Regions from separate parts of the Homo sapiens genome. Here region 1 is linked to region 2. The links come from fine-mapping of genetic effects on gene expression. Tissue or cell type: whole blood. Region 2 holds a variant in brackets; the other region holds the start of a gene. All regions are shown on one strand. Distances are between the middles of the regions.

The links. PIP is the estimated chance that this variant, and not a neighbour inherited with it, causes the effect.
Region 1: it holds the start of RALGAPA2, and the variant in region 2 is fine-mapped to the expression of RALGAPA2 in whole blood (TOPMed, PIP above 0.99).

What each region holds. Positions count from the first base shown.
Region 1 is chr20:20,711,355-20,713,964 of GRCh38, reverse strand. RALGAPA2 (Ral GTPase activating protein catalytic subunit alpha 2) reads left to right here and starts at 1,321. Exons shown (of 40, transcript NM_020343.4): 1 at 1,321-1,590. The coding sequence starts at 1,485. RefSeq lists enhancers at 861-1,060, 885-1,179 and a silencer at 1,171-1,430.
Region 2 is chr20:20,386,194-20,388,950 of GRCh38, reverse strand. No RefSeq gene overlaps it. Among named protein-coding and RNA genes, the nearest start is that of INSM1, 19 kb to the right of the region's middle. The variant T/A (reference allele first, on the strand shown) is at 1,060.

The DNA.
Region 1 (2,610 bases), 330 kb before region 2:
TAAAAATAGAGAGACGCTCTAAAACTGTGAGTTTATTTATTTATTTTTTCCTTTTCGCCTGCCTGGTTGAAATATGTAGGACTACTTTAGCTTTTTATTGTATTTCATTTAATAAACTTTTATTGAGTGACCCTATGGGCCAAATACTGTGCTGAGGGATGGGGATACAAAGGCGTGTAAATCCTTGTCTCTTCCCTCAAGTTACAGTTCAGCTAGAGGAGAAAAAGACAGTTGTGTTGTCCCAATTTGGATGGAAACCACGTGATTCTACCTTAAGTACTTGCTGAAAAAGCTGAAAGGATGTCAAAACTTGCAGGATTCGGATGCCACTATACAATCCTACAGTGTAAGAAATCTCCTGACCATCTTTCAGCTCAAAGTCTTGCCCCAGGGAATAAGCGCCTGGCTTTAAAAAGTATACAGGCCTGAGTCAGATCCCTCAGGTTCTATTTCTGGTTCTGCTACTGGATCGCCATGTGGCTTGCACAACAGAGAACGCACCCTTCCTACAAAGAGGCAAGATCCCAAGGAGCCCTCTGAGCGAGCGACCTCCATACCCCAAGTGAGGTTGGGTTCCAGGAACCTAGGGGCCGGCTGAACTCCTCACCGGGGCACGCTCTTCCCTAGTGCCAAAGCAACTCATTTTAGTGTGAAATTAGAGCTGCGATTTCGGCACGGTCAGAGGGGCTTCGACTCGCTCCCTTGTGTGAATCCAGAAGCTAAACCTAAAAATAGTTTGCATTTGAAAAGCCTTGACACTTTTCTTACTGAGATTTTTGGGCGTGTGTGGTTCACGTTGCACTAGAGGAAAATGGGGTGGGCGCGCAGGAGGGAGAGTGAAACCACGGGCGATCTAGGCTGCCGGGGCAGGGGACGGACAGAGGCCGCCCTGCGCTTCTGCGACCCTGGAAAAGAGGTCGCAGCGCGTCGCCTGCTGGAGAACTTCATTTCCCAGGAGCACTTGCGGCCCGCGGCAGGGCGGGGCGACGTGCCCAATGCCGGCCCACTGACTCCCATCGTGCCGAAGACCGCCAGCCTGATTGGAGGACTGTCTCGCGGTGCATCTCGGGACTTGTAGTACAACGTGTGCGTGAGAGAAGCTCCTTTGTGATTCGAGGCGCCTTCTCGGCCCTCTGAGCGCGTCCCCGCTAGGTTTTGGCGCGGACGGGCTAGTGTCCCGCCAGGAGAGTTCGGCCTGTGTGCGCGTGCGTAGCGCCCAAGGGGCCGGCCGGCACCTCCCGCGGGGCGGGGCCTTCGGTTCCCCGTCGACACCGCCTTCCTGCCCCGCCCCTCGCCGTGACCGGCCCGCCCCTCCTTCCTGGAGACACAGCTGAGGCGGCGGCGGCGGCGGCGGCGGCGGCAGCAGCGGGGCTGGGGGCGGCGAGTGGCCCGCGCGACACGCGCCGGCCTCGACCCTATGCTTTGATTCGCGTGGCGCAGGCGCCTACTGCCCCGCCGGCGGGGCCCGGGCTTCCTGCCGCGGGATGTTCTCCCGAAGGAGCCACGGGGATGTGAAGAAGTCCACCCAGAAGGTGCTGGACCCGAAGAAGGACGTGCTGACCCGCCTGAAGCACCTGCGGGCGCTGCTGGGTGAGGCGCGCGCCGGGCGCGGGGGTCGGGGCGCCGGGTTAGGGGCACCTGCCGGGAGGGCGCTCCTCTGTGCAGGGGTCGGTGGCTGGGAGGCTGGGGAGGGGGATGGGTGGGCGTCCGACCCCCTTCCCTGGATCTGGGCTTGGACCCCCGGGGCTTTGTTTCCAGAAAGCCGCAGCCTGGCCCTCGGGCACTGCTCCCGTCGCCCTCGAGTTAAACTTAGCCCAGATTCTCGCTGGGCGCCTGCGCTCCCGGAGAACCTGGAGGCCGGGCACAGAGGTACCTGTCCCCTGTCCTCCCAGCAAGTGAACTGGATCCCAAGTGGTCATCACGTGCACACATTGAACTGTCACCTCCCCCTTTCATTTTTAAAATTTTATTTTTGAGTCTGAGACCCTAAGTAGACCGAGACCCCAAGTGAACCCAGCACAGACCTAATTGGGCTCTCATCTCTGTCATCCCCCTTTTAAATTTTATTTTTACTTTTGAGTGTGAGACCCCCATATAGACCGAGATTCCAGGCGATCCCAGCACAGATTTGTCATCTGTCTTCCCATGCTGCTTTTTAAATTTAATTTTTATTTTGGGTCTGGCTGCTTCAGTTTCTTTGTGTCCTTGGTGTGAAGGGGCCTTCTCTTCCTGCTTGGAGAGAGGGGTGGTTTTCTTGGGTTCAGGGAGGCTGCTTCTCCTTTATTACCGGCATGACAGTGATGCTGTCTGCCACCTTCTGGTTTATGGCCTGCCAGGTGGAGGTTCTGAGGAGCTCAGGTGGGCTTGGAGTTGACCTGTGATGAAGCTCGCCCCTGTGGGTGTGAGGTGTCCACAAGGCTTCCTGTCACCTGCTGCATGTGATCTGTAGCTGGTTCGCCTAGGCTATGTTTTGTTTTCTGTATTTTTTTACATCCTAAGTCTTAACTTTTCTTTGGGATGAAAACACCTTTGCTATCTATAGACACACTTACCTGTGTATTTGGTGGCGAAGGAAAGAACACCTTATGTTTCTTCCAGGTGTCTTTTAGT
Region 2 (2,757 bases):
GTTAGCAAATATTTTGAGTACCTAATACTTACAAAACATGGCTGTGACCTCACAAATGGTCTGGATGCCTTCCTGGGAGTCAGGCAGACCCTAAATTCAATGTTTAGCTTTTCACTGATAACAAGAGCTTGCTTGATGGTACGTCCTGCTTCTAATACTTGGTACCTCATCACATGAAGCTTGTTGTGGAGTTTTAGAGCTTTGTGGCTTGGACACAGTGGGTCCCAGCCTGTGCGTCAGCAGCGTTGAAGAATCTGTGTAAGTCAAATGCAGGTTCCTGTCTGCTACAGACTCTGACCCACCAGGTCTGGGCTAGAACCTCAGCATCTCCACTTTTTAAAGCTACCCAGAGGACGCTGACCTACAGGTAGATCTGGGCCAGCCCCATCAGCGATGGTCTGGGCAGCATTCATCCCCTGCCTGCGCTGAGGGAACATCAGAGACCACTACCTGCAGGACAGCTCTTTGCTCTACAGCTGCTCCTAGGAGCTGCGTTTCTGCCACTCACTAATGACTCGGCGTCATAGGTGGCCCTCAGGACTCCCTGGATAATCTCCCTGGAGATGCCCCCGCCCTGGATAATTCAGGGATACTTCTCAGATATGGACATGGTTATTTGAAATTCAAAGGATATTGTTCTCAAAGTCTTAAACAGTTTACTTTTTTATATCTTTGTTTTTGTTTTCACCAAATCGTTTTCTCTGCCACACATTTTATTTCTTGCAGAATGATGAGAGGGTGGGGAGACATTCTGGTCCATCATGCCTCCTGTAAGTGATCAGGTCACCTTAAAAAAGTACTCATCAAATCTTGGGCCATATTAGGCCAAACCTTCAGCAGAATTCCAAAGAACAATCCAACTTCCAGTGCTTCCAAAAGGACCATTGTTACAAGGCCCTGACAGGTCTTTTGGGGCTTCTGCTAGGTGCCAGAATTGAAAGACTATTTTTAAGGTACACCTAACCATAGTCAGTGCTTCCAAAAGGACCATTGTTACAAGACCCTGATAGGTCTTTTGGGGCTTCTGCTAGGTACCAGAATTGAAAGAAAGAATATTTT[T/A]AAGGTACACCTAACCATAGTCAAGTGGTCTTGACTATGTCTAAGTGTTTCAGAAAAAAAAGCGCCAGTTATTTATGCCTCCTGCAGTGAAGCGTGTCTTCCAGCGAGAGGCTCACACACTGATATTTGTTCACTTCAGTACACATTCAAGCTAGCATTATGGTGCCGTGTATGTGCAGAAACTAAATTGAGGCCACTTTGGTTTATTAAACCGTTTATGTCAAGGGACACTAATCATTTGCTCTTTTGTCTATATCTGGAAATGGTTTTAGTTGCATTTTGTTTTTCAAACCAAAAAGTGAAGGCCGTGGAAATGGAGCACAAAGTAAACTTTGTCCCTGCATATTTGGTTTACTCAAGGCACGGATCTACAGCTGGAAAGGTCGCCCCCACCCCCACAATCTGACCACCTTCTACAGGTATGAAAACTGAGGCCGGAAGACGTTGGCTCACTGAGATTCACAAGGTCAGAAAGTGAGGCTCCAGGCAGGAGATGAGTTTCTGGGTTCCCACTTCTTTTTTTTTTTTTTTTTTTTTTCTGAGACGAAGTCTCACTCTGTCGCCCGGGCTGGAGTGCTGTGGCAGGATCTCGGCTCACCGCAAGCTCCGCCTCCCGGATTCACGCCATTCTCCTGCCTCAGCCTCCCGAGCAGCTGGGACTAGAGGCGCCCGCCACCGCGCCAGGCTAATTTTTTTGTATTTTTAGTAGAGACGGGGTTTCACTGTGTTAGCCAGGAAGGTGTCGATCTCCTGACCTCGTGATCCACCCACCTCGGCCTCCCAAAGTGCTGGGATCACAGGCGTGAGCCACCGCGCCCGGCCGGTTCCCACTTCTTGATGTCACCCCCACTTAGCAGCAATCACCGTTCTTCACCAGTGCATGGACTGTTTGTTGAAAATGTAGTTTCCACGTGCATTTTTGGTCACTGTAAAGGTCCCCTAATGCCAAGGCTTAGGCCACCCTGACCCTGCTGTCATAGGGACCAGGCACAACACAGACCAAGGGCTTGGAGTGTGGGAGAACCTGTTTTAACAAGAGACTTACCTACTCTCCCTACACGCAGAGACGAAAACGCTGGAGTTAACCTCTCTCTGGCTCCAGAAGCCATGGACTGGAACCTCTGGAAAGAAAAATTGCTCGTCTTCAACTCTGAAAAATAGACTTTGAGGTAAGAGCAGGTAGCCAAAGCAGGTTTTTCATGCTTGATGTGATGCCCAGGCAGGTCGGCCACGCTCTGGAAGACCATGGTCTGCTCTCTGCACTCAGACATCCACACGTTTACCAAGCACTTGCTACATACAGTTTGGCCAAAATTGTCTCGTTTCTCTCCTGAAAATGTTTTCTGTTTCGGGAGTTTGAGACAATAAAGACATATCAATGTCCTTCCATGCCACAAGAACCACCTTGAGTGGAGTAGAATGAGACTCACTTCCGAAACCGAGGTCTGTTCTTAGTCTGCTGCAGATTCAACCGCACTTTCACCCGCAGAGAACAGCCGGCAGCCCAGCTAGGCAGTGCATTTCAAACAGCAGTGATACCCTCTCTGCCCTCGAGGTGCTCTCAGATCTGCCCCCAACACACACAAACAGCAGTGATAAAAACAGCAGGAACTCTCCAAAATGACACTCTTTCTGAATAATGAGAAAAAAATAGCTGGAATTGGCGATTGCTTCATTTTTGTCATTGTTAGAATTTTA